Regions from separate parts of the Homo sapiens genome. Here regions 2, 3 and 4 are each linked to region 1. The links come from fine-mapping of genetic effects on gene expression. A gene starts in region 1. Each other region holds a variant in brackets. All regions are shown on one strand. Distances are from middle to middle. Region 1 holds the start of MYRFL (myelin regulatory factor like). Region 2 has its middle 150 kb from the start of MYRFL. Region 3 overlaps MYRFL (myelin regulatory factor like). Region 4 overlaps MYRFL (myelin regulatory factor like).

Region 1 (2,616 bases):
TTTGGTAGCACAATAGGGTAAATACAGTTAACAATAATTTATATTTCACAATAAAGGAGTGGATTTGGAATGTTCCCAACATAAATGATAAATGATAAATGTTTGAGGTGATGGATACCCCAATTACCCTGATTTGATCATTACACATTGTATGTTTGTATCAAAATATATGTACCCCATAAATATGTACAACTATTGTGTATCCATAAAAATTAGAAATAAACTATATATATAAAAACTATATGGATATATATATAAACAAACTATATATGGATATATATATATCCATATCCTTCCACACACATATCCATATCCACACACATATCCATATCCACTGCTACCACTCTGTCTCATATATATATGTATATATGTATATATATATGTATATATATGTATGTGTATATATATATATATATGAGAGAGTGTCAATAATTGGTAAGTGTAGATGAAGAGTATATGGATATTTTATGATACTATTTTTTTTCCAAATAGTTGGGAAAAAAGAAAAGGAAGGGGCGAAAGGATAATTTAATTTCCTAATTGTATTTTCTTAGGCTATTGTTAAATGAATTATAGCTAAGCAGTGAAAACAAAACATTTATTCGGGTATGGTTTTATATTTAGGAGTGAATCAAGTTACTAGTGACTCAACTGTAAGAATTATTAAATTGGTAATGCAGTTTTCGTTGCTTGTTAGAGAGACTTCTCATACTTTATGGTTTATGCTTTGGAAGCAAATAAGCTCTAGAGGAAATGGAACAGGTATGTATTAAGGAATTTAAGTTTTTGCTGTAAGTTTGGAAATACTTAACAAATTCTAACTTTTCATTATCACAAGCCTTTTAAAATTACCTGTGATGATAGGTATCTATAAAAGTAATTATATTGATTTATCCCTTTTTTCTAGGTTAAAAAAATAAGTATGTTTTATTGGTGGTAGCTAAGTGGATCTAGTTGATAAAGGTGGAGATATAAATATATTGGTGTAAAAGGACAAATATGAGATAAGACTATGTATTTATTGCCCATTTATGTAATTGCATGTGTCACTAAGGACAAAGGTCCTTAAAGACGAAAAGCAGAGTAGAAACAGTTCCTTATATTAAGACAGATGAATTTGCTACCTCTTCCCTCTTCATGAATTTTTTTTAAATGTATGGTTGTATATCCTTCCAGTTTTATAATCACATTTGAAAACTCAACCATCTTTCTGGGCACAATTTGATGGCTGAAGATATGCTTCACTCCAATAAAAAGAAAATGAAGATTTTTCAAGAGCATTCGTAGGCTTCGAATCAAAAGGACAGTACTTATTTCCTGAGGTCTGATAACCGTTGTTTTATGAGGAAATAGTACTAGGATCACAGTACCATGGATGTGGTAGGCGAAAATGAGGCCCTGCAGCAGTTCTTTGAAGGTAAGAGGCCAATTTCCAGCATGAATTTGCTGCTTCTGAGAAATGCTCACTATCCCTGTTTCACCTTTTCCGTATTCACTTAAACTTTGTTTTGAAAGAAATGCTATCATACTTAGGTAACTCTCCTAATATCAAAAGTAGGGGTTTATTTGCTACATTGGGAGCAAAATTCAATGGTATGGATAGAGATTTTAAACAAAACAGGATTTTCATCTTATAGTTTGGTTGTTAGAATCAAGGGGTCAGCATATTTATGTTGTTATTACTTGTCCCTGTCCTGTACTAGATTTTATTTTTTCCCATGCCCTATGTTTAAAAAAACTACATAGCCATGCTCAAATTCCATGTGAAGGGAAACGTGACCATCATTTTTACACGGTAAGGTATTTTGCATGAGGGAGTATGAGAAGAAGTGAGGGAAGACCTGCTCATTTACAGAATCTAGGGATCAGTCAGCAGCACATCGAGAAAAGTGCTTTAGGTATTTCTTGTGCTTTGTAAAGTGCCTGACAAATAATATATATTTAAAAGTTGAATGGAATGGGCTGAATAGTAAACAATGCTGAACACTAAAGAGTGACGGGGCGTACCAAAGAAATAGTGAGATTCTATGTCACTATTGGGAGGAATCAACACCATGGGGTAGTTTCTGTGGCTTGGGTTTTTCCAGAAATGGCAAGAAGAAACATAAGACCAAGAGAATTATCACATTATCTTGTCCTACCATCCATCCCATTGAGTGTTCTGTCTCTGACAGTGGCCAAGTTGGTATTGTCTACCTGGGTCATGCTTGGCACATGGTAGGCACACTAGTGTTGCTAGACTGTTATTGCCTGATTTTATATCATATATAATTTTCGTTTGAGCAGCAGGTGGCAAGCTTCAATCTACCATTGCATCTATTTTAGAGAAACCAGCAATTTATTGTATACATGCAAAAATCTACTCCATTTCCTTCTAGAGCTAGGGAAGACCTGAATATCGAATTTGGTCTACCTTCTGTTTTTTGAAAGAGCTTTTATTTCTATGGGATCCCTATACTGTCCTTGTTTATACTATTTTTGGAGGTTTCTATGGATATAGTTTCTACAAGTCCCCTCTACAGCTTGTTACAATTATCTGATCATTATTATAAAAGTATTTGTCTTCAGTGTTTTTCTTACATTATCTGTGAATAGTTGGAAAAGGTGGTAGACTTC
Region 2 (2,616 bases), 150 kb after region 1:
GGTTGAGACAGTTTTGTATATGTAGATGTGTTAATCGTTCATTCTCATGCTGCTATAAGGACATACCCGAGACTGGGTAATTTATAAAGGAAAGAGGTTCAATTGACTCACAGTTGCGCATGGCTGGGGAGGCCTCAGGAAACTTACAATCATGGCAGAAGGGGAAGCCAAGATGTCCTTTTTCACAAGGTGGCAAGAGAGAGAAGTGCGGAGCAAAGGGGGAAAAGCCCTTTATAAAAACTATCAGATCTCATAAGAACTCACGCACTATCCCGAGAACAGCATGAGGGTAACCACCCCCATGATTCAATTAGCCCCCACCAGTCCCTCTCACCACCCGTGGGGATTATGGAAACTGCAATTCATGATGAGACACAGCCATACCATATCAGTAGGCTTGCATTTTATTGGTTGTCTTCCCTTGAAAACAATAAGGGATTTTATTAGGCAATGACTTTCTCAAGTGGTCCATTCCTGAGCAAAGGGAACTGCTCTCCAGGAATAACCCACTTGGCCACATGATGGGCATCTGCTCCCCAAAACCTAGGGAGCTCATCAGGACCCAGGGAAGGAGGATTATGGAAAACTCTGAGAGGGGCCCATTTCTTTCTTTTCTTTTCTTTTCTTTTTTTTTTTTGAGACGGAGTCCCACTCTGTTGCCCAGGCTGGAGTGCAGTGGTGCGATCTCGGCTCACTGCAAGCTCCACCTCCCGGGTTCACACCATTCTCTTACCTCAGCCTCCCACGTAGCTGGGACTACAGGTGCCCACCACCTTGCCCAGCTAATTTTTTGTATTTTTAGTAGAGACGGGGTTTCACCGTGTTAGCCAGGATGGTCTCGATCTCCTGACCTCGTGATCCACCCGCCTCGGCCTCCCAAAGTGCTGGGGGCCCATTTCTTTAAATTTGGCCATGATGTATTTCCTTGGCAGAATATGAAAAAAGTCCAAAATTTCAACACACTACATTTGTTTGGTTCTTTAGAATAGGGCTTCTCAAACGTTAATGTGCACACAATCACCTGGTGATCTTGTGGAAATGCAGACTCTATTTCAGTGGGTCTGGGGTGGGGCCTGAGAACGTGCCTTTCCAACAAAGTCCTGGATGCTGTTGATGCTGCTGGCATGAGACACACCCTGAGGAGCAAGACTTTCAAGTTTGGCAAGTGTTTTCCTATGTCATCTCACTCAGTCCTCATGACAAGCCTGTGAGGTACCTGACACATCCCCACTTCCAGCAGTAGAGGCAGGTTCCATGAGGTAAACAGACTTGCTTCGGGTTGCACAGCAGGTACGACTTACTCTCAGACATCTGAATCCGCGTCCTGTGATTTTTCTCCCACACAACTGTGCCTCCTCTGCGTACATCTTGGCCCATAACGCTTCTCAGGAAGATGCTCCAAATCAGGGTTTTTGTTTTCAGAGAGCTTCTTCATCAGCACACCACTGCATTTTTTCCCATTCCCCATATCTTGTTAGATGGGTTCTTTTATGTTGCTTGTCAGTATGTTTAGGTGGTGATTGTCATCCAACATTCTTGCTATCCCTCTCCACTTTATACTATCCACAAGTAGATATAAAATGTCTAGTTTCTCTTATTTGAATTATAAATACAAGCTTTTC[T/A]TCGATGTTTGAAGGCTCAAGTATTGATGGATACACAGAGGACTAATCTCTGGGAAGTAATACAGGCAGTATATATAGAGTCAGAGTAAGAGATTAAACATCTTATTGATAATGAGCAGGTAACAAAGTGGGAATCATTATAATAGCATAAGCTGGAAGTTGACAAAAACATACTGGGAAAACACATGGATTCTGGAGTTTTGAATCCTGGTTCTGCCTGACCAAATGTGTGATGTGGGGCTAGTTACCCAACCTCTCTGTGCTTTGATTTCCTTGTATGTTAAAAGGAGATAACATGTTTTTTGTGACAATACATTTCATTAATTCACAACAGTCCCCCACATATATTAAGTGTTCAATAAGTATCAGTGCCTATCCTTATTACCAATTGGATAGTCCAATCTCCTTATTTTTATTTTTTGAGAGAGGATCTCACTCTGTCACCCAGGCTAGAGTGCAGTGGTGGGACCTTGGCTCACTGCAGCCTTGACTTCCCAGGCTCCAGCGATTCTCCCATCTCAGCCTCCTTAGTAGCTGGGACCACAGGTGTGTGCTGGCTCATTTTTGTAATTTTGGTAGAGACGGGGCTTCGCTGAGTTGCCCAGACTGGTCTCAAACTCCTGAGCTCCAGTGATCCACCCACCTCGGCCTTCCAAAGTGCTGGGATTGCAGGCATGAGCCACTGCACCTGGCCAATCTCCTTATTTTTAATATGGAGCCAGAGAAGCCCAAAAAGCTTAAGTGATTTCAACATTCATTAACCAACAGTTTTGGAGCTTTCACTATGTAGCAGATATTTACTAGTTGGTGAGTAGGCAAATGTTATAAGTTGGGAAGTAGTGGAGCTGATAAGTGAACACAAACCCTCTAGTTTCTATTCTATTATGGTAAGTGTGAGTGTATGTCTCCACACTCACTGCTGCTCTTGATCTGCAATTGTTCTTTGGTATTTCCAACAGTTCCAAGGGCAGCATTGCCTTTAACTCCATTGACT
Region 3 (2,616 bases), 110 kb after region 1:
CAGCCAGAGGGTTTGGCATCCACAGCTGACTAGACCTGTGCCGCCTTCCATCTCCCAATGCGACAGTGCCAATGCCCTCCACCGGTGGCACGCAAACTGTGCTCTGACTCTTTCCTGCAAGGAGCAGTTGCCTCCAGCAACTTACATGCTTCCTCTTGTAATCTTCCACTAGTGACAGGCACCTCTGAGACAGCTTGCCAGGGCTGGGGGGCTGCTCTATGTGGAAAAATCCATCAGCATGGAATACCTAGGAGCCTCTGAGCTCTTTTTCTCTCCAGGGCAGAAAAGCATAACTGTGCTGGTTTCCATGGTGTTTCTGTCAGCCGTGGCCATCCCCTCCCCCCTGCTCCCATCTGTGTGGCCTGTGAGAGTACATCTCTGGCCAGCTGGATGTGTGAGATATATCTGGAAACAAATCTGCCACATAATGTTTTTTTTTTTTTTTTTTTTTTTTTTTTTGACAGTGCTTTGACGATAGTTGCCCTCTATATACTTAGCTTAAAAGATCAAGACCGACGTGTCCCAAATCTCCCTCCAAGGTGAGAGTTCAGTTCAATTTTCTGGCCTAAAATTCCTTTGGAGAGAAGGATTTTTGCAGCCCTCTTTCATTAATCATTTCATTCTTTTTCTCCAGCAATATCACAAGCTCACAGGAGCCAGCTCTGCTGCCCACAGCCTCCTCCTCAGGTAAAGGCTTCACATTCCTCACCCTCAAACCCGGTTTCAAGTGAACTGTTAACAGAAGAAACCAGCCTTTCAGGTTAACCTTCTTGCTTCCCCTCCCCCCTGCCCAATGCCTTGCAGCACCTAATACATCCCTGGTAACCACACCGGCCTCCTTACAAGTACCTGAAATTACTTTCTGTGAAATCCTGCCGTGTCAGGAGACTTATTGCTGCCCCATCCGGGGAATGAAAGAAGTCTCTTCAAGTCCTGTGCAAAGACAATCTGAGGAGAAGGAATTCCATCAGAGGCGATGGTCAGGTAAATGATGTTCAAAGAGAAACAACTAGAGCTTTGAACTTGAGGTTGTTTTTCTTGTC[A/G]CAATTTACTTAGATGGTCATTAATGGTTCCAGATAATGGTTCCATGCTTCTATTTGGGGTGGCAAAATCTTTAAAACACAAATACACAACTGCCAATCATCTGTAATATTGAGTTCCTTGCCCAGGAATGAAATTTTGGTTGATTCAAGTACTTATAATTTTCACCAAGTGAAAGGTTCTCATTTGTCCATTGCCAACAAGGATAGTAATAGTAGCACAAGCGAAGTAATTACATGCACGTGGGTGGATTTTTTGGGCTCATTTAGAGTTTAAAAAATGATGTGGTATCTGGGCTCTCTGCCTAAACTGACTAGGGCAAAATGTAAGAGACTTTGGAAACTCTAATTTAGAGTTCAGGGTGAGATTTAAGGCAGTGAAAAACACAAGACTGGCATTCCACTTTCAGAATAACTTTCCTCTTCCTCCTAGGGACACACACACACATACATACATACCAATGTTATTCAAGTAACACAATTTTCATGGTAAAAAAAAGTATAGAAACTTAATCAAGGGCTGCAAGTGTAATCATATCCATAAGATTACATACAAGTCTTCCAAATGTATACTAATTTATTATTGTTTTTAGAAATTTTATTCTATATATACATATTAATAAATAGTAATATTAATGATGATGCTAATAAGGATACATATTACTATGGCTTATTGATTAGGATACTGTCATAACAACAACTCTTAAATAACAGTGGCTTCTTTATGGCAACAATTTAATTCTGAGTCACTCTATATATTAAATGTGAATCAAAAGACAGTTCTTGGTCATCATGTCATTTAAAGTCCAGCTGATGAAGATTCCATCACAATAATTATTTCCACAGTCTCCGTAGTAGTGGTAAAAGAACAAGGCAAATTATGTTCCGACTCTTAAAGCTTCCACCTATGTATAACACATATCACCTCTGCTTATACTTCATTGGCCAAAGCAAGTCACGTCACATTGGTCATGTCTAATTTTTAAACGGATGGGGAAGAACAGATCTAACATGTATGGAGAAGATGAACCAGAATACTTATAAGTGGTGCTCATGACCTACATAGAATATGGTCAGTGGTTGAAATGTTGGGGTGCAATGTAATTTCCTTTCCCTTTTGACATTATTGCATATCCTAGTCTTGGTTAAATAACTTTTACAAATTGTCATCATCATCATGATTATCATGTTGTAATGAGGTATTACTCTACGCTAGGTACTGTCATAAGTAGTTTACATGAGTAAATCATTTAATCTTCACAAGCCTACAAACGAGGTGCTTTTATTATCCCAATTTTTTTTTCCAGTGGGGAAGCTGAGACACAGAGAGTTCTTTCACTACAGCAATAGGAGACAATGAGCTTTTCTCATGAAAACTATTTTTGATTGAACTTAGGAGCAGATGCATCACTATGGAGTAGAACTAAAAACTTCATTTTAAAGAAAGGAATTCATTTCAGTCATCTTATTCTCAATATTTTTAAATATGAAAAAATCTAGAACTATCACAGAAATCCCCAAGGCTTTTATCCCTTGTGAAAGCACATGGAACCTTGTGGCTGGTAAACACTTTTCT
Region 4 (2,616 bases), 120 kb after region 1:
CAGCTAACATCATAATGACAGGATCAAATTCATACATAACACTATTAACTTTAAATGTAAATGGACTAAATGCTCCAATTAAAAGACACAGACTGGCAAATTGGATAAAGAGTCAAGACCCATCAGTGTGCTGTATTCAGGAAACCCATCTCATGTGCAGAGACACACATAGGCTCAAAATAAAAGGATGGAGGAAGATCTACCAAGCAAATGGAAAACAAAAAAAGGCAGGGGTTGCAATCCTAGTCTCTGATAAAACAGACTTTAAACCAACAAAGATCAAAAGAGACAAAGAAGGCCATTACATAATGGTAAAGGGATCAATTCAACAAGAAGAGCTAACTATCCTAAATATATATGCACCCAATACAGGAGCACCCAGATTCATAAAGCAAGTCCTGAGTGACCTACAAAGAGACTTAGACTCCCACATATTAATAATGGGAGACTTTAACACCCCACTGTCAACATTAGACAGATCAATGAGACAGAAAGTCAACAAGGATACCCAGGAATTGAACTCAGCTCTGCACCAAGCGGACCTCATAGACATCTACAGAACTCTCCACCCCAAATCAACAGAATATACATTTTTTTCAGCACCACACCACACCTATTCCAAAATTGACCACATAGTTGGAAGTAAAGCTCTCCTCAGCAAATGTAAAAGAACACAAATTATAACAAACTATCTCTCAGACCACAGTGCAATCAAACTAGAACTCAGGATTAAGAATCTCACTCAAAACCGCTCAACTACATGGAAACTGAACAACCTGCTCCTGAATGACTACTGGGTACATAACGAAATGAAGGCAGAAATAAAGATGTTCTTTGAAACCAACGAGAACAAAGACACAACATACCAGAATCTCTGGGACGCATTCAAAGCAGTGTGTAGAGGGAAATTTATAGCACTAAATGCCCACAAGAGAAAGCAGGAAAGATCCAAAATTGACACCCTAACATCACAATTAAAAGAACTAGAAAAGCAAGAGCAAACACATTCAAAAGCTAGCAGAAGGCAAGAAATAACTGAAATCAGAGCAGAACTGAAGGAAATAGAGACACAAAAAACCCTTCAAAAAATTAATGAATCCAGGAGCTGGTTTTTTGAAAGGATCAACAAAATTGATAGACCGCTAGCAAGACTAATAAAGAAAAAAAGACAGAAGAATCAAATAGATGCAATA[A/T]AAAATGATAAAGGGGATATCACCACCGATCCCACAGAAATACAAACTACCATCAGAGAATACTACAAACACCTCTACGCAAATAAACTAGAAAATCTAGAAGAAATGGATAAATTCCTGGACACATACACTCTCCCAAGACTAAACCAGGAAGAAGCTGAATCTCTGAATAGACCAATAACAGGATCTGAAATTGTGGCAATAATCAATAGCTTACCAACCAAAAAGAGTCCAGGACCAGATGGATTCACAGCCGAATTCTACCAGAGGTACAAGGAGGAACTGGTACCATTCCTTCTGAAACTATTCCAATCAATAGAAAAAGAGGGAATCCTCCCTAACTCATTTTATGAGGCCAGCATCATTCTGATACCAAAGCCGGGCAGAGACACAACCAAAAAAGAGAATTTTAGACCAATATCCTTGATGAACACTGATGCAAAAATCCTCAATAAAATACTGGCAAACCGAATCCAGCAGCACATCAAAAAGCTTATCCACCATGATCAAGTGGGCTTCATCCCTGGGATGCAAGGCTGGTTCAATATATGCAAATCAATAAATGTAATCCAGCATATAAACAGAGCCAAAGACAAAAACCACATGATTATCTCAATAGATGCAGAAAAGGCCTTTGACAAAATTCAACAACTTTTCATGCTAAAAACTCTCAATAAATTAGGTATTGATGGGACATATTTCAAAATAATAAGAGCTATCTATGACAAACCCGCAGCCAATATCATACTGAATGGGCAAAAACTGGAAGCATTCCCTTTGAAAACTGGCACAAGACAGGGATGCCCTCTCTCACCAGTCCTATTCAACATAGTGTTGGAAGTTCTGGCCAGGGCAATTAGGCAGGAGAAGGAAATAAAGGGTATTCAAATAGGAAAAGAGGAAGTCAAATTGTCCCTGTTTGCAGATGACATGATTGTATATCTAGAAAACCCCATTGTCTCAGCCCAAAATCTCCTTAAGCTGATAAGCAACTTCAGCAAAGTCTCAGGCTACAAAATCAATGTGCAAAAATCACAAGTATTCCTATACACCAACAACAGACAAACAGCCAAATCATGAGTGAACTCCCATTCACAATTGCTTCAAAGAGAATAAAATACCTAGGAATCCAACTTACAAGGGATGTGAAGGACCTCTTCAAGAAGAACTACAAACCGCTGCTCAAGGAAATAAAAGAGTATACAAACAAATGGAAGAACATTCCATGCTCATGGATAGGAAGAATCAATATCATGAAAATGGCCATACTGCCCAGGGTAATTTACAGATTCAATGCCATCCCCATCAAGCTACCAATGCCTTTCTTCACAGAATTGGAAAAAACTACTTTAAAGTTCATATGGAACGAAAAAACAGCCCGCATCGCCAAGTTAATCCTAAGCCAAAAGAACAAAGCTGGAGG

Evidence for each region.
Region 2: its variant is fine-mapped to the expression of MYRFL in tibial artery (GTEx, PIP above 0.99).
Region 3: its variant is fine-mapped to the expression of MYRFL in unexposed skin (GTEx, PIP above 0.99). The same link has a PIP of 0.9 or more in sun-exposed skin.
Region 4: its variant is fine-mapped to the expression of MYRFL in aorta (GTEx, PIP 0.97).

The regions. Positions count from the first base shown.
Region 1 is chr12:69,824,147-69,826,762 of GRCh38, forward strand. It overlaps MYRFL (myelin regulatory factor like), which reads left to right and starts at 1,081. Exons shown (of 25, transcript NM_182530.3): 1 at 1,081-1,417. The coding sequence starts at 1,372.
Region 2 is chr12:69,971,171-69,973,786 of GRCh38, forward strand. No RefSeq gene overlaps it. Among named protein-coding and RNA genes, the nearest start is that of MYRFL, 150 kb to the left of the region's middle. The variant T/A (reference allele first, on the strand shown) is at 1,623.
Region 3 is chr12:69,935,649-69,938,264 of GRCh38, forward strand. MYRFL (myelin regulatory factor like) reads left to right here. Exons shown (of 25, transcript NM_182530.3): 17 at 465-539; 18 at 635-687; 19 at 805-984. Among named protein-coding and RNA genes, the nearest start is that of MYRFL, 110 kb to the left of the region's middle. The variant A/G (reference allele first, on the strand shown) is at 1,044.
Region 4 is chr12:69,940,642-69,943,257 of GRCh38, forward strand. The region is part of intron 19 of MYRFL (myelin regulatory factor like); the gene reads left to right. Among named protein-coding and RNA genes, the nearest start is that of MYRFL, 120 kb to the left of the region's middle. The variant A/T (reference allele first, on the strand shown) is at 1,194.